Linked DNA regions of Homo sapiens. The protein of the gene in region 2 interacts with the protein of the main gene of each other region in a biochemical or structural test. Each region holds a gene or a part of one and is shown on either strand. Other genes may lie near its edges.

Evidence for each region.
Region 1: of the proteins of SRPK2 (region 2) and RBM15, one has a biochemical effect on the other in vitro, tested with the Homo sapiens proteins (2 studies listed by BioGRID and IntAct).
Region 3: of the proteins of SRPK2 (region 2) and OBI1, one has a biochemical effect on the other in vitro, tested with the Homo sapiens proteins (one large-scale study listed by BioGRID).
Region 4: of the proteins of SRPK2 (region 2) and AP1M1, one has a biochemical effect on the other in vitro, tested with the Homo sapiens proteins (one large-scale study listed by BioGRID).
Region 5: of the proteins of SRPK2 (region 2) and AHCYL1, one has a biochemical effect on the other in vitro, tested with the Homo sapiens proteins (one large-scale study listed by BioGRID and IntAct).
Region 6: of the proteins of SRPK2 (region 2) and PRRC2A, one has a biochemical effect on the other in vitro, tested with the Homo sapiens proteins (one large-scale study listed by BioGRID).
Region 7: of the proteins of SRPK2 (region 2) and STON1, one has a biochemical effect on the other in vitro, tested with the Homo sapiens proteins (one large-scale study listed by BioGRID).

The regions. Positions count from the first base shown.
Region 1 is NC_000001.11:110,344,777-110,347,177, forward strand, and holds the end of RBM15 (RNA-binding protein 15), read left to right. Parts: intron 1-762; coding exon 763-833; 3' UTR 834-873; intron 874-1,531; coding exon of another isoform or gene 1,532-1,578; 3' UTR 1,579-1,901; downstream 1,902-2,401. UniProt on the Homo sapiens protein: RNA-binding protein that acts as a key regulator of N6-methyladenosine (m6A) methylation of RNAs, thereby regulating different processes, such as hematopoietic cell homeostasis, alternative splicing of mRNAs and X chromosome inactivation mediated by Xist RNA.
Region 2 is NC_000007.14:105,144,422-105,147,921, forward strand, and holds part of SRPK2 (SRSF protein kinase 2), read right to left. Parts: intron 2,238-3,500; coding exon 2,072-2,237; intron 888-2,071; coding exon 862-887; intron 1-861. UniProt on the Homo sapiens protein: Serine/arginine-rich protein-specific kinase which specifically phosphorylates its substrates at serine residues located in regions rich in arginine/serine dipeptides, known as RS domains and is involved in the phosphorylation of SR splicing factors and the regulation of splicing.
Region 3 is NC_000013.11:78,617,656-78,621,155, reverse strand, and holds part of OBI1 (ORC ubiquitin ligase 1), read left to right. Parts: intron 1-3,500. UniProt on the Homo sapiens protein: E3 ubiquitin ligase essential for DNA replication origin activation during S phase.
Region 4 is NC_000019.10:16,204,411-16,207,910, forward strand, and holds part of AP1M1 (AP-1 complex subunit mu-1), read left to right. Parts: intron 1-1,930; coding exon 1,931-1,998; intron 1,999-3,500. UniProt on the Homo sapiens protein: Subunit of clathrin-associated adaptor protein complex 1 that plays a role in protein sorting in the trans-Golgi network (TGN) and endosomes.
Region 5 is NC_000001.11:109,987,765-109,991,264, reverse strand, and holds part of AHCYL1 (S-adenosylhomocysteine hydrolase-like protein 1), read right to left. Parts: intron 1-3,500. UniProt on the Homo sapiens protein: Multifaceted cellular regulator which coordinates several essential cellular functions including regulation of epithelial HCO3(-) and fluid secretion, mRNA processing and DNA replication.
Region 6 is NC_000006.12:31,627,215-31,630,714, reverse strand, and holds part of PRRC2A (protein PRRC2A), read right to left. Parts: intron 2,951-3,500; coding exon 2,476-2,950; intron 1,572-2,475; coding exon 1,381-1,571; intron 1,168-1,380; coding exon 870-1,167; intron 125-869; coding exon 1-124. UniProt on the Homo sapiens protein: May play a role in the regulation of pre-mRNA splicing.
Region 7 is NC_000002.12:48,578,654-48,582,153, reverse strand, and holds part of STON1 (stonin-1), read right to left. Parts: intron 1,568-3,500; 5' UTR 1,521-1,567; coding exon 1-1,520. Other genes in the region: STON1-GTF2A1L protein, read right to left, coding at 1-1,520. UniProt on the Homo sapiens protein: May be involved in the endocytic machinery.

The DNA.
Region 1 (2,401 bases), on a different chromosome or scaffold from region 2:
AATGTTCTTTGTAACAACCAATTTTTTTCTATCTTTCTTCTTTAATTATTTTAATGTAGTTGATTTTTCTGGAACTCAGTTAAAATGAATGGAAAGAAAACTTCAGGATATCATTTAATGACTATTAAGTATTATTGGTAAAAACGTGAAGATAAGACTTTTAGATCACAGCTTCAAATTTTATGGAAAATTAAGCAAGCAATACCTAGCCAATAGTTCTGCTTAACTTTTTGGTTAAGTATTTTGTTGGGATTCCTATAAATAATTTTTCACACAAAGTTTTAAATTTCTGGTGTACTTTGACTCTCAACTGAGAGTGGATAGAGTTTTTCTTTTGAGGATTACATCTTAAAATGTCCATCGCCTGGCTGGTTATAAGCATTTGTCACCTTTTGAAGGTAAAATATACTCTGGCCCTTCTTGACTCAGTTACAGGTCATTTTAGGTCCAGTAATAAGAGTCAGGTGTTTGGTTATTGCTTTCAGAGTCAGACATTGTTTAGGTTTATTTAAAAACTATTAGCAGGTTTTCACTGACAATGCTTTTTTAAAAATAAAAAATGTAAATCCACTTTTTTAAGGCAGATTGTTCATTATGCATATACAGCTTGAACTATAGTTTGGGTCCATATAGGAACCAATCACCAAAAACTCTGGTAACAGAATTAGGAAATCCTCTTGAGAAGAGGGCCTTAATGACCTTTTATGTGAAAAAAATTTTGGAGAGAATTTCTGGACATTTTTTTTTCTGTCTCTCTCACAGGGTTTGGTTTTCAGATAGGAGTTAGGTATGAGAACAAGAAGAGAGAAAACTTGGCGCTGACCCTGTTATAGTGGTTATAGTGGTGTCCCTAAAGGGAGGAAATGATTTCAGGTAACCACAGTGAAATGTTAAGCTGAATGAAGAGTTTTATATGTATGGTTTAAACAGAGTTGAAAAGTGAGATTCCTGAAGTGTTCTTTGGCTGTTTAACAATTATTTGTATGAGTGTTTTATTAAAATAACGGCTGCTGTCTTTGGTAACATAGATGAGGGTGGATTTTTAAATGGCTTTGTATCGACCCCTTTCTACAATAATGGAGTAGTCTATGTTGCTCCATATAAATTACAGAATGAAAATAGATGGGGCAAAAGTTTGACTAAACTTTACCTTTTTATAGTTTCACTTTTTAAGTTATATTTAGAATATATTGATAGATTATAAATTGATTGTGAAACTTTTTTCTGAATTTTTTCAACATGTTTTACTCAGTTACATGAGTTAAAGGATATTTTCAGTCCTGTTATCTTCAATTGCAGTCTTTAAAAAAACCCACCCTATTGTTCTACTTGTTATATGTCTATTCATACAGTAAATTCATTTCAAGGTTTATGCCAGTGGGTATTATTGGTGCTTTTTGAAGTTGAGGTGAACCATCCAGGAAGGTCTTGTTAATGTTATGTTCATCTATAATGGCATAGGGGAAATATATATATTTTTAATATTGTAAACATTTGTACTGAATAACCTTTTTTTCCCCCCCTCCGCAAGCAAAACTGGTTGAACAGCGGATGAAGATATGGAATTCAAAGCTCTAATGGACCTTTTTGAAGAGAAGTTGTGGCTTATGTGGAGTTTACATGGGCCTCTGATGGAAGAAAGCTAATCTGTTTAGTATTTGTGCATTTTACTAAAATGGCAGCTTAAAGTTGTGTATCTGCTATTGTGATGCCAATGCCGGTGTTTTAAGTGGAAAAAAAATGACCTCTTTGATTTGTGCTGTGTACACAAGATTTCTGGAAAAGTAAAGAAAAACCCTTTTTATGGCTCACACAGCTTAAGAGTAGCTGTCTCTCAAACGTGCGCTCACAGTTGAGCTGCTTTTGTTTTATTCTAAATAAATTGTTTCTTTTGAGGAAAATGTTTTTCTGCCTGGAAGTGAATTGACGGCAAACCTTTGACCCCTTTGTTTGCAGCCGAGGGGGTGCTTGCTGCTGCTCAGATCTTGTATGTCTTGAGCAAGAAGCAGGGAGACCATCAATTTCATTTTGACTATCACGGTGTGTCAATTCTGAAGGATCACTAGTGTTACTGTTGACCCCCTTTGTTTGCAGTGAAGGGGATCATTTGCTTCTCGGTTCTCAACGTGATGAGGAAATGGTGCTGTTTGCTGGCACGCAAGAAGCCGGGGCAGGCACCCTAAGCCTCACCACAGTGCCTGAGTCGGGGGCTTTTGCTGGTTTGAAGAGCTGGAGTTGCTGAAATTTAAGTTTTGATTTATTTTGTTCACCCATCACGTTTGGCCTTAGTTTCATTTTTAATTTGAAGAAAAGTTTGAAATTGCTTTATCTTGCACTTAACATTTGCACCAAATTGCCAAAAGAAGGAGAAATGCTCCGTTTGCTTTTTAAATGTTAATGA
Region 2 (3,500 bases):
GTAGAGACAGGATTTCACCATGTTGGCCAGGCTGGTCTTGAATTCCTGACTTCAAGTGATCTAGTGGCCTCAGCCTCCCAAAGTGCAGGGATTACAGGCGTGAGTCACCACACCCAGTATCTAATAAGGACATAGTGTTTTGACAGGACCACAAAATAGATCAGTCTCTTTCTTATTTAACATCCGCATGGAAAAAATTAGAACAACAGCTTCAGAAAAACAGGTAACTTAGCAGCCAATCAGAAATAATGTAAAGTGGTTTTGAAATAAAAATACTTCAACTCCATCACCTCACATTTCACTAAACTTGGCCACCATAGTCCAGAAAATGCATAAAGAAGACAATTTTTGAAAGGCTCTAACTATCCCAACTCTGCACAGATCATTAAAACTTAACAAGACAGGCTGGGCGTGGTGGTTCAAACCTGTAATCCCAGAAATTTGGGAGGCCGAGGCAGGCAGATAACTTGAGGTTAAGAGTTCGAGACCAGTCTGGCCAACATGGTGAAACCCCTCTCTACTAAAAATACAAAAATTAGTTGGGTGCGGTGGCAGGTGCCTGTAATCCCAGCTACTCGGGAGGCTGAGGCACAAGAATCGTTTGAACCAGGGAGGGGGAGGTTGCAGTGAGCCGAGATCGCACCACTTGCACTCCAGCCTGAGCAACAGAGTGAAACTCAGTTTTCAAAAAAAAAAAAAAAAAAAATTAACAAGACATTAAGTCTTACCTATTTGAGGATACACAGCTTTTATAAATGTGTCTACCCTTTAAATACACAACTTTTTTATAATTTGAACAACTCAATAATAAACGGTCTCTTTTAACATGGTGCATATAAAGTAATATGCGTAAGTACTTACAGGTTTCTGCTGTGGAGCCGTACTCACTAAAATAAAATCAAACAAAATCTGTATTTAGCAGAAAACAGACACATGCCTTCATGTAGGTCATTCGAATTGCAAAGTGAAATAATTATTGTCTTTTAATGGCTATCCAACTTCAAAAACTATTAATCAGAGCTTCTTAATCACAAGGATCTAGAGTAAGTTTATGCCACTGAAACAAATGAGTGACTCCTGAAGTCACAGCAGAAGTTACTCATACTGAGCCATTTCTCTTATTTATCTAAAATGAAATACTAATACATCTCAAACACAGTCAAGCTCAAGCACCAACAGATCACTTAAGAAAATGGAAAAGAATACATATCACAGTCATTAAACCAAATTTGTTTAAAATATAATGAAATGAACAATGTAGATGTACATCGATATTTGGAATCTATTTTGCAAGCTTTCTATAATTTAAATCAAATACTGCAGTTGGTATGCAGCAAATAGTCTAGGAATCACATGATTAAACCCCTACACCAGGGTCAAAAGCTTAACAGGCTGGGTCCATGATCTAAACAACACCCTGATGGCAGTAAAGGAGATGTGAAGAGAGCCCCAGGCAGTCCCAGGAGCCTCAGCCCTTTAGTATCCATGCTTGCCTGACAACACACAAAGGCACAGATCATGGTGTCGAAGAGTGAGAAGCACAGTCCACACTTCACTGCACCACCTCCCCGACCCCGCCCCAGAAATAAAGATATCCCAATACTCAGGTCACTTGATCTTCTTCCCCCACCATCAGGCCTTTTCTAACTAACTCCAAATCTGTTGATACAACTCAGGTTGACATAGCTATGCTAAATGGACAACAAGAATTTATGTACACAAAATTGAAGCCAGAAAAATATTCTGATGACTAAAGGTCAGCTACAGGAAAGCTGTTACTATGTTCTCCTCTGCAGAGAAGCTGGCAACAGAAAAAACTGTTCAAATATAGATGAAGCAGCAACTACAAATTTAAATGGCCTTTTAAAGGGGGACAAAAGTAAATACTTCCAATATTAAAATATAATGTAGCTGGGGCATTTTCCATTTCAAGGGTGCAGTTATTTCCAGCAATTAAACTTTTCCAAAATCTTCCTTATGTGTAACGTTTGATTCAGATACCTTCAACAACTGCAACTTTGCAAGCTCCCAATGCCCCCACACTGAAATGAAGCTGGCTCAGCTCCCTCACCTGCAGACCCTGAAGGAGGAGGAGCACCTGCTTTCTGCCACTCAGTGGCCTCAGCTGCCATTCTTCTCACATATGCATCATCCACACACATCAAGATATTTTCCGGCTTTATGTCAGTATGAATGATCTTGCACTTACTGTGTAAGTAATCTAACCCTTGAAGGACCTGGATATAGTAAAATCAAGAGAGAAGATAAGCTATTAATATCTCATTATATAACTTTTATTTATTTGAAAAACATGTAATACAATGCCAGGGTACAAAGTTTGATAAACACAAAAGGATATTTAGTAAAAATCTCCCTCCCATGCCTACCCACATTGGAATCCAGCTCTCCTTTCCATAAGCAACCAGTGTGTATAATTTCAGAGATTATTTATGCTCGTGGAAGCAAATGCATCTACATACAGTTGAACCTTGAACAACACAGGTTTGAACTGCATGGGTTCCCTTATACACAGATTGTCTTCCACCTCTGCCACTCCTGAGACAGCAAGACCAACCCCTCAGCCTACTCAACGCGAAGATAATGAGGATGAAGACCTTTATGATCATCTACTTCATATGATCTATCCACTTAATGAATAGTAAGTATATTTTCTCTTCTTTATGATTGTCTTAACATTCTTTTCTCTAGCTTACTTTGTTGTAAAAATATGCTATATAACACACATACAAAATACATGTTAATTGGTCATGTGATCATTAAGGATTCTGATCAACAGTAGGCTAGTAATTCATGTATCATACAATTGACCCCTTTAGGTATACAATTCAATGGATTTTAGATGTGCGACTATCATTACTATTTATTTTTTAAATTTTTTATGTATTTATTTTTTGAGACAGAGTCTCGCTCTGTCACCCAGGCTGGAGTGCAGTGGCACAATCTTGGCTCACTGCAACCTCCGCCTCCCAGGTTCAAGCAATTCTCCTGCCTCAGCCTCCCAAGCAGCTGGGATTACAGGCGTATGCCACCACGCCTGGCTAATTTTTTTTGTATTTTTAGTAGAGACGGGGTTTTACCATATTGGCCAGTGGTCTCGAACTCCTGACCTTGTGATCCACCTGTCTCGACCTCCCAAAGTACTGGGATTACAGGCGTGAGCCACCACACACGGCAACTACCACCACTATTTAAATGACAACATTTTCATTGCTCCAAAAAGAAACAACATATTCATCAGCATTCACTTCCCATCTCTCTCCTACCCCTTCTAACCCTTAGCAACCACTAATCTACTTGCTGATTCTGGACATTTCCTATAAATGGAATCATATAAAGTATTTTTTTGTAACTGGCATAATGTTTTCAAGTTTGACTCTTGTGCAGCATGTATTAGTACTTCGCTTATTCTTATTGGCAAACAGTATTCCACTGTATGGAGATACAACATTGTGTTTATCCCTTCACCTCATGAACATTTG
Region 3 (3,500 bases), on a different chromosome or scaffold from region 2:
AGGCCACACCACAAAAGCTGGTCCAGGTCCAAAGATAGCTTTCGCTTTGTTTCATTACCTCAGCTACCAAGTGAGGGAAACATATAAAGTCAAAGTTTGATGAGGCAAGTGGACTGACTTCCCCAATGTCCCCCTTGTTCCTCCTCAAGAAGGCATTTCTGAATTTTGGCAGTCTTGGCCACCCACTGGGCTTGCTGCATTTACCCATTTTGTTGGAATTGCCATTGAGAACCAGAAAGGCAAAGTGAATTGCTCAAGGATAGTAGCGTAGCACTAGAGCTTATTAGTTTTTTGGTACTCAGGTGTGGTATTCTTTTACCACATTTGTTTTCTTCAAACACGTCCTGTTTTTCTGTGTGATAGACTATGAGAAAATATGGTCTTAGGAACTTTTTGTTGTTAGAGATGCTCTTTAGTTTAGTTATACCACCTCAAAGGTCATACCAATAGGACTTCCATTTCTCTTTTACTAGGGACAGAAATGATCTTGTATCTCTTAGAGCTATTTGGACAAGGGGAACTGGCATCCTTTTCTCTCTCATCCAGAATGTATGTATCAGTTAATATTGCAAGCTGAAAAATCCTTTAAGCTTCTGTTAGATTCTGGCAGAATACAGTTCCGATATCAATTGTAGCTCCCAAACTGCTCTGCAGTGTTTTTTCTGGCACAATGAAGCCTTTGGCCATCACTGCTACTTTGAAAATCAAAGCCTTTTGGTCTCTAATGGAATGTTTATAAAAATACTCCATTTTGAAATTTACTCAAGAAAAGGAGGAAGTATGGTAAATGATATTAGAAATCCCTCCGGCTTGCCTTGGCATAGCTTCATTTAGTGTTGTATACTCCAAATATCTAGAATTAGTGTGAATACAAAAGTATTAAAACCCAAAGATAAATAAGCTCATGTCCTTCTTCTATGGAAGTATAGCATCAGATACTTATCCCTAATTGTTATTTCTCTATAATAAGGTAAATTGCCCTTTGCCAAATTTAATATAGTTATCTTGGATAAGCTGAAAATTTCCTGACACATGTCAAAAGTCTCATCTATTTGCAGTCTTACTAAGGTGAAGTTTTTTGGGGTGGAGCAGTATAGAATGTCAAGCCTGTAGCAAAAAAGGCTGTACTGTACATATGTCAGTCTCTGTTGCTTTCCTGGGTGTCAGTGAAATAAAGTAAACAGTCAAATGTAGTAAACAAAACATGTTTACTTTAGTAATACAGTGACTGTCATAATACTTAACATGTAAAAAGAAGGCCAAGGACCTTTAGCTTATCCTGTGGTGTCAACCCTGTCTCAATGTAAGGCACTAGTGTATCTTAAAGTAAGAGAATGACTTTTATTCAAGAAATACACAACAGGCAAGTGCCGTATACCAGGAATTGTTCTAGGAATCTGGCAGTGAATATAAGACAAACTACCTGCTCTCCTTGAGCTTCTATTCTAACGTGGGAGAAAGAAAGCAAATAAATTACATGAATTGATTAATTGATCAGTTGCATGGCTTTTAGTATACATTTCTGTCAGTCTGCCAACCAGCACAGGTCCCTTATTAGCATGGGAGAAGGGCCTGATCACTGAAAGTATTATAGATTTATAGAGTATTGAAAGGAAACTTAAGGAAATTGGGGGCAGTGGCCTTTTAGAAAACAGCCTAACTCCATCAGTGACTTCTGCTTGCTTGTGCCTCTCATATGTGATCTGCTACTGGCCTTTGTTACTTCTCTCTGAAATAACACAAAAATTATGTTTAGGGCTCTCATTGACTTCAACTCCAAACCATATGTTACTTCTTTTAAAAACATAATTTCTAAAAAAAAAAAATATATAGAGAGAGAGAGGCAAATACAGTATCTTAAGATGATACTATATTTGAAATTCCAAGCTAAAACCCTGGAACAAGAAGCTGGTAATATTTTGGGAAGCATTCTTTATTTTTGAGTAGTCTTTCTGTGTGTAGGCCTCTAAGTTCCCAAAGATATCCTTTGGTAGCAACTGACTTACTATGTAGTAGCATTATTTGATTTTAAGTCATTTGATTTTTTTATCTGAGGAGATACCTTTATTATAAAAAATTTTACTTGAAGAAATTTATCTTGATAAGCAAATGTAAGGCTGTCACTTTTGCTTATTGGCATTAAATAAACATACTACAGTTTTTCCATTTAAAAATGTGGGTTATTTGATTATGCCAGAGTAGTTACAATCAAGAACTAACAAACATTTGTACTTAATGTACTGAAAGGTCTTTGCCCACTTTTTAAAAGTTCTCTTGCAGAACTACAACTCTGTGAAGTACTACATTTATAAGCCAAAACATTTTTAACAAAGAAGAAAAATTCCCATCATTCATTTAACCAAATACAGTAGTAAACTTTGTCTTTAAAATGGGGAGGCTTGTTATTATAGTTGCTTTTGTTTTTGTTATACCTGTGGTTTTTGCTGTGTTTTTTTAGAAGTTGAAGGGAGCGTGCTCTCTCTGGGGGTTCAGTTAATTGCAGTGAGTAAATCAATATTCAGCAATCATGTCTTTTAAAGCCCTTTCTAATCTTGAGATTTTATGATTCTATATTTACCTTTGCCTCTGCTTTTTCCTTCAGTGATAAGAGTGCAGGGATTATGTAGGGGTTGAGATGGGGAATGAATTGGGCTAGTGGTTTAGGAGGTGATGGGCATTAAGTGGGAGTTGAAAACATGTTGTGGTTGATTCTAAGAGGGGCAATTGCTATTGGCTTCTGCTTTTTTTGTAGTTTTTTTTTTCAATACTAAATACATGTTCTTAATTGTAATTATTTTTCAAATTAGGGGAAAAAAGGAAGAAAAAGATAAACCCAAAGATAAAAATAATTTTTGAAAGTCACCTTCTCATAGCTTCCTCCAAACAGACAATCCCTTAATTCTTAGAAATGGGCCAATATATAAATCATCAAAAAGATGATTAAGAATAGGCTTTGAAAAGAATTTTGGAGGAGATAAGGTATTTTTCACGGGATTATGTTATTTATTGGCTCATAAGTTTCCTGAAAGATAGAATTTATTTTTGGTGATAAGATTGAATTTAAGGTAGATATTTTATGTCCCTTGGAGCTAGACAGTCTTTTTTATCTTTTGTGTTCCCAGCCCCAAATATACCACCTAACCTATACTAGGTACTCAAAAATTGTTTCCTGAGCTTAACACAGTACTCATTCTTGGTGGAAATAACAGCAAGATAATCCCGGTGTAAAAGGAGTAGACTTTTTGTGAATAAGGGAATTCTTTTTCAGTCACTCTCCAAAATGTTCTCTTTCAGAAAGTGTACAAAAAAATTTTTTTTTTTGCCTAGTATATTGGAATCACAAGCACTGACTTCATATTTCAAAGTTGAAAGAAATGAGATAGATGTCCCACACAGCTGTAAAATGCCAAAAATAAGTAGTGCTGACATAAATTAAAGGCCAGTGCTCTGAAAAGCCACAGAAAAGCTTCAGATCAAGGGTGGCTATAATTGAAAGGGCC
Region 4 (3,500 bases), on a different chromosome or scaffold from region 2:
CCGTTTGAGCCCCAGCTCCAGCAGCCATGGGGGATCCCTCACCTTCCCACAGTTCAGTGGGAACAACGACCCCTCACTGCAGGACCATTCGGGTCAGTTGAACTGACTTGTGCATATTGCTCCCAGCAGGCATGGGCTCTGTGCCCTTTCCTGTGTTCTTGGAGACACTTGGGGCCTTGCCAGTACAGTGTGGCCAACGGGCCAGAATATCCGCTGGGAGCCCTTTGGAAATGCAGAATCCCAGGCTCCACCCAGCCCTGCCCCGTCAGAATCTGCATTGTAGGAAGATTTGTTCCTGGTGGCCGGTGTGCACATTCCCATGTGGGCCGTGCTGGCCCAGGGCTCCCTGTGGTGTGCCTCTGTGTAGATTTCACCTGGCTCTGGAAGGCCCTGAGAATAGCTCTGAAGATGATCTTAGGTGGCTTTTTTTTTTTTTTTGAGACAGAGTCTCGCTCTGTCGCCCAGGCTGGAGTGCAGTGGCGCCATCTGGGCTCACTGCAAGCTCCGCCTCCCGGGTTCGCGCTATTCTCCTGCCTCAGCCTCCCGAGTAGCTGGGACTACAGGCGCCCGCCACCACGCCCAGCTAATTTTTTTGTATTTTTTTAGTAGAGACAGGGTTTCACCATGTTAGCCAGGATGGTCTCGATCTCCTGACCTCGTGATCCGCCCGCCTCAGCCTCCCAAAATGCTGGGATTACAGTCGTGAGCCACCGTGCCCGGCCTAGGTGGCTTTTAACCCAGGGAACTGACAGTCCTCTGAAGCCGCCCAGGTATTGGGAGAGGGAGAGGTGGCTGTGGTCTGAGCTCAGCAGGAGCCATCAGATCAGTTTCTGGTTGGGCCCCCACATTTCACACCTGGGCATCTAGGGAAGAGACAGGGAGGGCTCACCCCTCTGGCTTAGTGGACATCGTTTCACCCCCAGCCGGGACAGTGCTCAGCAAGGCCGTGGCTGAGAGGCACCCATGAGAAGGTGAGAGGCCCCCACTGCCCCTGCTTATAAAGCATCTGGGGAGGGCACATTGCCAGGCAGCAGGAGGGAGGCCAGCACTCGTTTGACTGGGCCAGCGTCCCTTTCCTGGGCCCCTGTGCTGTGCTGGGGTGAGGCGGGAAGGGAGAGGATACAGCCCCCACCCTCCCTCCTAGAGCTCACTCCTGGGCAGACGAGCCAGGCAGCACAGATGTGCCATGAACAGGGATGTCCAGGGTGCAGTGCATGGGCCTACAGAGGAAGAACCAGCCTTCTCTGGCGGCCCGGGGACCCATTAGGGAAAAAGGAATAGGAAGCGCCCAGCACACACTGACCCTGGGAGGCAGGGGCTGGCTCCTGTGGCAGAAGGGAACATCTGTGCCAGACATCTCACCTACATTGCCTTGGTGAGTTCATTCACAGGCCTCCATTACACAGGAGAGAAATATCAAGGTTTCTCTAGAAAGGTTTATTTCATGGGCCAAGGCTTGTGTTTCCAAAGCCAGGAAGGGCTGAAGCCAGAATTGGCCCTGGCTGCTTGCCACAGAGTCTGGCCGGGGGACCCTGGACCTCAGCAGGGTCATGATGAGGTCAGCTTTGGAGGAGCAGGGCCAGTGTGTCCTGCTTTCTGCTCCTGGAATGAGCCTCACTCCCTCCCTGCTCAAGGCAGCCCTTCACCCAGCCGCCGGGACAGGTGCCCTGTGCCACCTGCCATCCCTGTGATTCTCCATCTCAGTGAGTGCTCCCTGGGGCCTGGGAGCGCATCTGGCTGGTGACTCCTGTGTCCCAGGTCTAGCTTGGACCAGGAGCTTTGTAGCCCACCATGGGCCAAGTAAACGGCTGGGAGTGGGGATAGGGAAGGCTCTGAGGGTTGTGAGGGTTAGGGGGTCCCTCCATGAACCAGGATCTTCCAGGCAGCAGCCCCAGCCTCTGAATGCTCCTTAACTGTGGCCGCCATGCAGTGGTTGCCACATCCAAGAAGAACGCGTGCGTGTCGCTGGTCTTTTCTTTCCTCTATAAGGTGGTGCAGGTGAGTCTCGCTCGGAGGGGCCGTGGGCTTGGGTGGAGGTTGTCTTGGCTCTGCTTGTGGACCTCCCCATACCTGGCCACCCTACAGAGAGCTGTGGCATCCCCAGGGAGCACTGGGGCTGGAAGCCCAGGAAGTGGGAAAGGGGAGTCCCAACTCCCCACGCCTGTGGAATTCTATAGCTCACGTTGCTCCCCTACCGTGGGGAAGAAAGGAAAGTGAACAGGAAAAGGTAGGGCTCAGAGCAGGGGTGCCCTGACCCTGGAAGGGACAAGCAGGGGTCAGCGAGCTTTGGAAGGATGTGGGGTGACCAGCTGGATGGGGCTGGAATAACCAGCAGAGCTGCAGAGCTGAGCCCACCTCAGAATCTCCCAGGGGGCTCTCAAGGCACAGATGCCTGACGCCCACCTTGGAGAGAGCTGACACGCCAGGCCCAGGCTGCCAGTGAGACACAGATAGCAGCCAGGGTGAAGGCGCCAGGACAGGTGTATGTGTGGTGCAGCTAGGGAGGCCAGCGTGCGTGTGGCAGAGTATGAGGCTGAGGTCAGCTGGGAAGAGGGCGGATTATACAGGAGTGTGGATTTCATTCCACTTCTGATGAAAGGTAGTGGAGGGCTTTAAGCAGGAGACTGACAAGACGTGGTTTGATCTAAAGCAGCCTCTCTGGCTGCTGAGCAGAAGGAGGACTTGAGGCCAGTGAGGAGGCTGCTGCTGGCTTCCCGGAGAGGATGGGCCTGGCCGAGGTGGGCTGTGGGGCTCACGAAAGTGGGGAACAGGACCCAGGAGGCCTGTGCTGGGCCTGGGAAAGCTTTCATCCCTCACTGATGCTGCCTGTGCAGAATGTTGGGGAACAGGGGCAAGCCTGGGCGGTGAGGGCTTGGGGAAGGAGCCGAGGGTCACCTGGGAAGGCCCCACGTGCAGGCCAAGGGCTGCCTTCACTGGACCGGTGATGCTGTCACAGGCAGGGCTGGGCCTGGCTGTGCTGCCTGTGGTTTCCAAGCAGAGGCCGGGTGATCACAGTCCTGAAGCGCGCAGGGGTCAGCAGATCAGAGAATGGGGGATGCGGGAAGGGGAAGGTCCTCACCCAAGGGTTGGGCTGTGCCTTTCTGTTTTAGTGACGCTCCTTCCTTCAGCATTTGTGCCTGCAAAAGTGCTTCTAACAGCCCCTCTTCTTTGGCGTCCCTTCCTTAACCTTCTGAGCTTTCCATTGAAATGGGGAAGATGCATCAAGCTTTCCACTGAAATGGGGAAGATGGCAGCTCATCAGGTCCTTGCCTGAGTCACTCCAGACTCAGAAAGGGATGACAGTTACAGTCGCTCAGGAGGGGCTGCCTGTCTGCGGGTGTCTGGGCAGGGAAGAGAATGGGAACGCAGAGCTTCTGAAGGCCTCGGGACATCTGCAGTGGCTCCAGCCTGGCCCCACCCCACAGCCAGCCACTGCTGTCCTGCCCCATAACCTGGGTCCAGGGCCCTGTAGCACACCACCGAGCCTGGGAAGTAGGCTG
Region 5 (3,500 bases), on a different chromosome or scaffold from region 2:
TACCTTTTACCAATAGTTCATTAAACTTTTTACTTTGTGTTCCATTTGGGTAGTGAATGATTAAGCCCCCCAATGTATACTGATAAGCAGTATCCATCATTATCTACATTCTGAGATTAAGGCACCAGGCTAAATCCTTTAGAAAAATTAAACAGAGATAGAAACAAAAATGAAAGCAGTCTGAGTCTCTCAACAAAGGCATGGATGCTCCACTCTAGTTCTATGAGTGGCATGCAGCAAAGGCCACACATTTCTACAGGAGAAAATCAGTTATACATAATTAGAAGCAGGCTGTTAAGAGCAATGAGAAAACAGTACCTGCAGGGATGGGGGCGGGGGTGCTGGAGTACATACCTAAAATGATAAAGTCACAGTTCAGAAGTCTTTGCAATTATTTCATGTAATTCAAGGATTCTAGTTTGGGAAAACCCCAAACACCTGAAGTTTAAGGAAATAAACTCCTGGACTGAGACTGGCCCAGTGTCTGACAAATACCCACATTCTATGAGTGCATTATGTATTACGGGGGATGAATGGGGAATGGTAAGGTAGAGGACATCTCAACTCCATCAAAAGCTCTAAGATCTCTGTCTACACACCCCACCCCTGTAGTTAACAAAATGTTTTGGGGTTCAGTAGCTGTAAGCTCTATATAAAATAACATTTTTGTCAGAAAAAAATTTTCTTATTGAAAAGACATTCCAATAGAAACTTCTTTGTTTTGGCTCTTTAACATTTCAAAATTAGGCTCTCATTTGCACTATCATGTTGCATCATCCAGAGAGTTATAAATAGGGTGGCCACATAAACCAGGGTAACTTTCAGAGCTACGGAGGCACTCCTTGGACTGCATGCTAGGATAACAGGTATAAACCAGAATTGCGCCAGGCAAACCAGGATATATGGTCACTCTAGGTACAAAAAAACCCCACTAATTACTATTTACTAAATGCTAACCCTCTCAACCATGTATATAGATAGCACTATCATTGTTCCCCATTTTACAGATGAGAAAAGGACGTCACTTGTTGAATGTCCCACAACTATTAGATGGTAGAGACTAAAGGTAAAACTGACTCCAAAAATCAGTGCTTACCTTATGTTGTACTACTACTCACAGTTTTAGGAACAGAAACGGGAAGTTAAAGGCGTCTTATGTAACAGCCAAGCAACAGTGGGACAAAAGAACTACTTGAGTGAGTCAAAGGAAAATATGGAATCAGAAAAGGAAAGGCAACTGCAATTCTGTGTGAATTTTTATTAACTGCTTACTACACAATAGGCACTGATAGTATTGACAATAATCAAAAGGAAAATTTGTGGTAAGAATTTGTCTTCAACTGGGGATTCTCAGATTTCAGGCTAGAAAAAATTCTGGTCTATGCACGTAGGTTGCCCTTCACATGACAGGAATGCTTCTGACGCACCTCATTAGCATGTGTTCTGAATTACTATTCAGTTCTAAATTATAATAAAATGTATCCAGTATAATCAGGGTTGACATTCTTTATAAAAATGCAATACTCACATTCCCAAACTTGAGAAACAGGTACGTATAAATGATTCTCCTTTATTCGCCAGTTCCTTTAAAACAACCCCAAGAGGGCATTAAAGTGCTTATTTACAGATCATTAACTACTCGGAGTGGCAGAGTACACTTGCTAGGAGTCACAGGCAACTAAAGACCTGCATGATTCCATGTATCAAAATATCCTTTATAGACAACTTTCCAAGAATACTATATTGGGGTGGGCGTGGTGGCTCTTGCCTGTAATCCCAGCACTTCGGGAGGCTGAGGTGGGAAGATCGCTTGAGCCCAGGAGTTCAAGACAAGCCTGGGCAACACAGGGATTTCCCCATCTCTATAAAAAATAAAAATAAATTTTAAAAAAGAATATTATATTGGGTAAAACACTCTGGATCCAAATGACACACTCCTGATAAAAGAAAAGGTATACATTTGTAACCTTGGCAGCAAAAGATCTAGACAACTACTGATCTAGAAATCTTCTAACAGATTTCTGTTACAAGCTAAATGTCTAAAGAAACTTGGAACAAAGTAATTTGGAAACTAGAGTGTAACTAACTAAACCAAACAAGAAAAAGAGATGTAATCAATACCTGCGGAGAAATCTTAAAAAGAGGATCTTCTTACACCCCAACTCCTGTTTTAAAGACTGCTACTACAACAGCAGCCACTCTAAGGAGAATCAAGAGATACTAATGATGTGAAGATAGGAAATGCCAACCTATGAAATCTCCTTTCAGTGATTCTGACAAGTCCTGGCGTAAATTCTATACAACTGCACCAAAAATTAACCGTAAGATAACTCTGATGACAAAAGGAGAAACCTGGATTTTACCTATCGGGTTAACACCCAAGCTGTACCCATTGGGGCTCTACTTGGTGTGCTTCCTAAGTCTCAGCTGACCCTTTTGATGAATTAGTGGCACATAGCTTCATTCAAATAAAGAATATCCTATAAACAAAAGTAGTTTCTTCTGTGCTCTTCTCCTTCCCCACATTTTGCTGATGGGTCTGACTCCACAGATCCTAGGTCAAAATGTTTAATGGATCACTCTGGAGAGTGCCTTTAATGTTCAGAAGTTCAGAGAACAGCAAATGTTCTGAAAGGCCTTCCGGAGAAACATGCTTATTGTAAGAGCTCTCCAACAAGTTGGAGATTTGGGTTTACACTATGAAAAAAGAATCAACTTGACACAGTGTCAATTTCCAAAGGTCCAAGGACAGTTACCACTCCTGTTACACAAAGTAGCAGCAAAAGAGGGATAAATAACCAGTGGTTATGGGGAACTAGATTACTTACTTGGTTTGACCGATAACTGCCAACATTAAACAAGGATCTTCTTCAGTTGTGGTACACTTAACTCTTAAAACTCAAGGATTCCTTTTCTTACCTCAAATTTTCCTAGCCATACCATCTGAAATCACCAGTGACAGTCGTGAACAAGCCTTACAATGTGAATTACACTACAGCTATTAAGACATTCCCGTGAAAAATTATTTTAGAACTCTGTGTCAGGAAAAGTCGTCCCCTTGAGGAATTGACATGTATTATTTCCCATGCCTGCTAAGGAGACTGTAACTATGATTCTTTTCATCCTCTGGCTGCTAAAAGTTTCAAGTTGCATGTGATCAACCTCATCAACTATCTTAGCCCTCGAGGTTAACAATATTTTTTTCATTCTTTCTATAGTTTTTACTTCCTTTTATATCACATATATGTTCTGTGTTATAAGCCACTTCAAATGCCCATTGAAGAAAGAATATAAATATACGAATAGACTTTTAAAAAATTACACTGCTATCTTAACTCCCCAACATGCCCCTATCTCCACCTGTTCCAAAAAAAATAGGCACTTATTTGGCAGATGAGGAGATGCAGGTACAAAAGCTAATTAATTTGCTCAAGGTCATATCCCTTTAGTTGACTTCTCGACACCCAGACATCTCAAATCTTCAATCAAACCAACAAGTC
Region 6 (3,500 bases), on a different chromosome or scaffold from region 2:
CCTACCCAGGCCAACTTTGGATCCACCGGTGGAGTGCCCCGTTCCCGTAACATAGCAGGTGCATGACGGTCAAATGGCTCTGAGCTTGAGCCCCCACTGTCTGAACGCTCTCGGGGAACTAGGCCTGAAGAAACCAAAGAAAAAGAAAAATAATCCTATTCATGTCACAAGCCCTCCAGCCCAAAAAGCATCTCCCCTCGCGGTCAAGTCAGCTCTTCCATCTCTTGTTCCCAGTAGGTCCGGGCCTTGCCTGCTCTTATATAACAAGGTTATCCACTCAGATTCCCTACAAGAGAATCAACCCACCCCAAATAAATCCTGGCAAATGAAGGACCACTGCTTCTTTCATTCATTCATTCATTTTTGAGATGGAGTTGTGCTATTCATTCATTCATTTTTGAGACGGAGTTTCGCTCGTTGCCTAAGCTGGAGTGCGATGGCACAATCTCGGCTCACTACAACCTCCACCTCCTGGGTTCAAGCGTTTCTCCTGCCTCAGTCTCCCGAGTAGCTGGGACTACAGGCGAGCGCCACCACGCCGGCTACTTTTTTGTATTTTTAGTAGAAATGGGGTTTTACCACGTTAGCCATGGTGGTCTCGAACTCCTGAACTCAGTTGATCTGCCCACCTCGGCCTCCCTAAGTGCTGGGATTACAGGCGTGAGCCACAATGCCTGGCCAACCACTGCTTATTTCTTAACTAAGCCCATTTTTGCAACAGAGCTATCTCAGCAGTGCCAAGCATATGCCCTTCCCTCATCACTATGATGGGCAAAACCTATCGTACCAGAGTCACAGTAAGACCCTAATATCCAATGCCTAAGACTGAGGGGACTTTCCTGTTTCTCACTCCTCCCATGCCCCCTTACCAGAGGGATGCACACCAGGAGGGTAGAAGTCTAGAGGGGGACGACCCTGGAGGAGCCGGGGGTCCACATAAGGAGGAATCATCATCCATCGGGGATCAAAGTTCATTGGGGGCATGGGTGGGGGCCGGCCCAGAGCACCTGGGTACAGGGCCTTGGGGGGCGGGGGTGGAGCCTGTGGAGCTGGCACAGCCCCCAGGGTCACAGGCTGTGGTGGTGATGGGGGCACTGGGGTAGGAGGGGCAGAGCCCTGTTGATGCTGCTGCCACTGGTGCTGCTGCTGCTGCTTCAGGAGCTGCTCCTAGGAAAGGAGGAAAGACAAGATGAGAGAGGCTCAAAGCACACATGGACAAAGGAATCAGCAAAGAAAAAACTTGGACTAGGGGAAATTGGCGTGACAATGGAGACAACTGGACAAAGAAGCAAAGGGACCCAGAAGGTAACTTATGAAGAGAATTAGGGACCGAAGCCAGGAAGAAAAGCAGCCCTTAGAGGGTAAACAACTTGATTTCACCTGCTGCTGCCGCTGGAAACGAGGAGGCAACGACTTCTGATATTTGGGGTAGCCCAAGCCCTGACTAGGGGGCTGGCGGGTGGGACCAATCCCATCACCCTTGGGTTCCACCTTTGGAACTGGGGGTGTGGTAGGAGGAGGAACCTCTTCTGGTGGTTCAGGACCCTCTTTTGAGGGCAGTTGTGGTTCCACTGCATCGGAAAAAACACAACAGAGTGATCTAGTCCAACAATAGACACTCCATGAACACCCCAGGAATCTCACGTCTCATCTCTAGCTCCCTTAAGACTAAAATATTCTATTCAACATCTATTCTATTGAAGCCCCTCCCATTTAAGACCCATTAAAGCACTTCATGGCCTCTCATGAGCCTATGGTGGTGGCATTAACTTTCTATGAAACCATTAGAACAACAGTACTTTCTTCAGTCTTGGCCTATAGGAAATAGTTTTCATTTTTATTTATGTATTTCTTGTGAGACAGGATTTTTTTTTGAGACAGAGTCTTGCTCTGTCACCCAGGCTGGAGTGCAATGGCATGGTCTTGGCTCACAGAAATCTCTGCCTCCCGGGTTAAAGCGATTCTACTACCTCAGCCTCCCAAGCAGCTGGGACTACAAGCACATGCCACCACACTTGGCTAATTTTTGTATTTTTAGTAGAGACGGGTTTCACTATGTTGGCCAGGCTGATCTTGAACTCCTGACCTCATGTTCTGCCCGCCTCGGCCTCCCAGAGTGCTGGGATTACAAGTGTGAGCCACCATGCCTGGCCGACAGGGTCTTGCTTTGTTGCCCAGGCTGGTCTCAAACTCCCTAGGCTCAAGCGATCCTCCACCCCAAGCCTCCCTAAGTGTTGGGATTATAGGCGTGAGCTACAGTACTCTGCCAAGAAATGGTATTAGACTACAACCTAAGATTCCAGACAAAACCTTCCCTCCTTCAGATATACAAATGATAGAACACTATCACTGATAGTCCAATAAACCAAAACAACTGCCTTCTACTTCATTTATCCCCAGCCTTACCACCCTGCACCTTTAAGCACCTTGAAGCAGTGATCTGACATCTGGTAGTACCTATCCCCATCTCCATACCTGGGCTGGCTTCGAAGCTGCCACTGCTGGTGCTACTGGTACTGCCACCACCACTCACCAGAGTGGGAGCCGCAGCCACACCTGGAGTAGGAGTAGATTGGGCAGGAGGGGCCTGTGCTGGCTCTTCAGGTTCTGTCTCTGGTGTTGGGGCTGATGCTGGAGGTGGAGCTGGAGGTGCAGGGAGTTCTTTAGGGACTGCAGGTGGTGGAGCTGGGGTAGAAGGGGCAGCAGGTGGGGCAGCAGGCTCTGCTTTGAGCCGCTTGTCAGGTGCCCCAAACTTTTCATCGAGTCGCTTGAGCTTCTCAGCACAGGCTGCCCGGCGCTCTTCTTGCATGCGCCGCTCCTCTTCTTCTCGCCGTCGCCGGGCCCGCTCCACTGCCAGGGAAATCTCAGATGACGACTGCTTTCGTCGCTGCCGCCATGCCTCATCCTCATCTTCAGGTGCTGGGGGCTTGCAGGGAGGACCCCCACGATCCTGTCAATTGGCAAGACCCAGCAGGGCCAGGGGAATCAGTTACTATGCTTTCTATCATCTCTTTTACAACAAATCAACTGTCGCTACTTGCAGGATGCAACGACCCAGGCTTTGGGGTTGATCTCTCTGGGTGGTGACAAACTCATTATCCTGGTCTTCTTTGAGACCACGTCTTGCTATGTTGCCCAGGCTGGTCTTGAACTTGGGCTCAAGTGATCCTTCTGCTTCAGCCTGCTGAGTAGCTTGGACTACTGATGCATACTAACAGATCCAGCTATCTAGCCACCCTAGTCTTTTTATTTTTCTGTTCCCTCTCTCCTTCCGAAACCCAAACACCCAGGGCTCCTTTTTCTTCTTTCCTCATTAGCATCCCAGTTTCTCACTTCTTACCCAGACTCCCCTATTACCAAAGATATTTAAAAGCTTCCCAGGATGTTCTGCAGCCTGGCACTTCACACAGCCCATTTTTAGCACCCCCCTTCCTCTATATCACAACCGCTTCAATTACTCAGCTGACACCAATTTCCCACAGCTGACCCTCTCAATCCCT
Region 7 (3,500 bases), on a different chromosome or scaffold from region 2:
AGAGGTACAAACTTAATGATTCTTGATTGCTCAAATTCTTGTACATTCACACACTTATGAAAATGGTAGTCAAGAATATCAATCCCCTTTTTTTCTGAGTCCTTCTCATAATAGGATTCATCTCGCTTCGGCAACTCAAGGTCATTCAAGGTTAAAAAGCATTCCAGGTTCCCATTCACAAAGCAGAGGCAATAAATTTGAGTTATCACAGCACTTTCAACAAATTTTCCTTCTTTTGTGACTTTACCCCAAAAGTTGTCCACAATTTCCAAGGAAATTTCTTGCTCCTCGTAGTTCTTTTTTGGTTTTGAAACAGCTGGCAACTTCATCAGCTCCTCCTCCACAGTAGTCAGAAAGTCAAGGAAGTCATGGTACGATGTGGACCCCAACTTCAGCATCTGCTCTATGTCAGGTTCATGAACTACTTCTGTCTTAGAATGGTATTTCCTTTTTTCTGTGTAAGACACATGTTCAATCTTCACAGTGTGGATTTTTCCTGCTACACTGAAGTTCTCAACCTTGGGTTCAGAAAGCCTACAATATGGATCAAGCTGTATCTCTTTAAATGGTTTTTCTAATCCCTGTTCATAATACATCTGCAAAATTCCTCCAGGCAAAACTTTCAGAAAAATTGGTCCCCATTGCCGGGAAGACATCATATTCTTCTTCTCAGGAATTCTCAGCATGAAAGACCATCCGGATTTTGGCTGACTCCTGAAGAGTGTGTGGGGGACAAAGGAAGAGGCATTTTCTTCAGCACATAGACAGTGCATAGACAAACTTCTAAGTGAGTCTTGGTTCTCAGCTGACTGGAGATGTTCAAGCTTCTCACAGATATAGTTGAGTGAACACTTATTTAGGCTTTTTTGGTCAATAGGCATCTCCTTGTTTCTTGATGAGAACATCTTTTTGCTTCCTGGTGGGTCAAGGGTGAAATGGGAATCACTGCCTTCATCTTTCCAAAATGGACTTGAAAAAGCACAGTCCTCTCGAAAATACTGAAACTGGGGGAGATCATCACTTTGGAATCCTAGGCTTTCAGCCTGTTGAGGATTAACTTCATCTGGAAGACCTACTTTGGGAGTTGGATGTGTACATGAGTGGTCACTGGGTAACAAGGCATGGGATAAACATGTTGGTCTGGTAGGCAGTAAGGAAGATTCTCCTCCTGATATTGCGAGTGGGCTGTCTGAAGATGATTCTGGAATAGGATAAAGCACATGAGTCCCTGCTTTGGGGATGCCAGGAAAACCTGGGAAGTCTTTGGTAGGTGTAGAAAGAGGAGAGTTACTTGGAGGTCCTGGACTGAAATAAAAATCTACAATGGGGGAGGAGAGAGGAGTGCTGCTGGTGGAGGAAGATCCACTGGGAAATTCCCTGAGGCCAGGAAGGTTCAGCTTCAGTCCATTTGGTCTACAGACACCTTGATTCTCCAGAGGAAAATTCTTTGACTTTTGAGAAGATTGAACAGCAGGATCATCATCAAAGGTGACCCATTTGCCTGGATTTGTGGAGCACATCTTTGGGATCAGATTGTGGTCTTGTCAAGAAATCAAATAGGTTGACTCTGTTAAAAAAATAAAATAAAGAGAAAATAGGTATATAAAATGAAGGGGGGAATCATTACTAAATGTCTTTACTTCTGATAAATGCTTAAAAATTATAATTCTGTTGGTGGCTAAGTGGATTAAAAAAAAAACATGATCCAACTGTATGCTGTCTATAAGGTACTCACTTTAGATTTAAAGACAGACATATGCTGAAAGTGAAAGGATGAAAAAACATATTCCATGCAAATGTTATCCAAGAGAGAGCAGGAGTAGCCATGCTTAAGCAAAATAAACTTTAAGTCAAAAACTATCATAGGAGACAAAGAAGGACATAATATAATGATAAAAGAGTCAATTCACTAGGAAGACGCAACAATTATAAATATATATTAACCCAGCTGGGAATGGTGGGTCACAACTGTAATCCCAGCACTTTGGGAGGCCGAGGCAAGCAGGTCACCTGAGGTCAGCAGTTCGAGAGCAGTCTGGCCAACATAGCAAAACCCTGTCTCTACAAAAAAATACAAAAATTAGCCAAGCATGGTGGTGGGCACCTGTAATCCCAGCTACTCAGGTAGCTGAGTCAGGAGAATCTCTTGAACCTGGGAGGCAGAGGTTGCAGTGAGCTGAGATAGTGCCATTGCACTCCAGCCTGGGTGACAGAGTGAAACTCCATCTGAAAATATATATATATTTATATATCCAACATCAGAGCACCCAAATATATGAAGCAAACATTAACAGAACTGAAGAGAGAAATAGATAGCCACCCACTAATAATTGGAGATTTCAACACCATACTTTCAACAATACACAGAACATCCAGACAGAAGACCACTAAAGAAACAATAGACTTGAACACTATAAACTCAACTAAACTGCCATACATATACAGAACATTCCACCTAACAGCAGCAGAACACATATTCTTCTCAAGCACACACAGAACATTTGCCAAAGCAGATCACGTTAGGTTACAAAACAAATCTTAACAAATGTGAGAAGATTGAAATCACACAAACATTTTTTCTAACCACAATGGAATAAAACTAGAAATTAATAATAGAAGGAAAACTAAAAAATTCACAAATATTTGAAAATTAACATACTCTTGAACAACCAATGGATCAAAGGAGAAATAAAAAAGGAAATTAGAAAATATCTTGAGACAAATGAAAATGAAAACACAGCACACCAAAACAGTACTCACAGGGAACTTTATAGCCACAAATGCGCCACTGCACTCCAGCCTGGGCAACACAGTGAGACTCCGTCTCAAAAAAAAAAAGGAAGAAAGAGGGCTGGGTGCAGTGGCTCACATCTATAATCCCAGCACTTTGGGAGGCTGAGGAGAGCAGATCACCTGAGGTCAGGAGTTCGAGACCAGCCTGGCCAACATGGAGAAACCCCATCTCTACTAAAAATACAAAAAATTAGCTGGGCATGGTGGCACACACTTGTAATCCCAGCTACTCAGGAGGCTGAGGCAGGAAAATCGCTTGAGCCCGGGAGGCAGAGGTTGCAGTGAACAGAGACTGTGTCATTACTCTCCAGCCTGGGCAAGGAGAACGAAACTTTGTCTCAAACAAAAAAAAAAAAGTGGTGTTGAAAAAACTTGATATCCACATGCAAAAGAGTGAAACTAAACTGTAATCTTATACCAGAGATGTCTAATCTTTTGGCTTCCCTCAGCCACACTGGAGGAAGAATTAAGGCCAGGCACAGTGGCTCACGCCTATAATCCCAGCACTTTGGGAGGCCAAGGTGGGTAGATCACTTGAGGTCAGGAGTTAGAGACCAGCCTGGCCAACATGGCAAAACCCAGTCTCTACTAAAAATACAAAAGTTAACCAAGCATGGTGGTGGGTACCTGCCCAAAAATTAGCCAGGCATGGTGGTGGGCAGGAGAATTGCTTGAACCTGAGAGGAGGAGGTTGCAGTGAGCTGAGA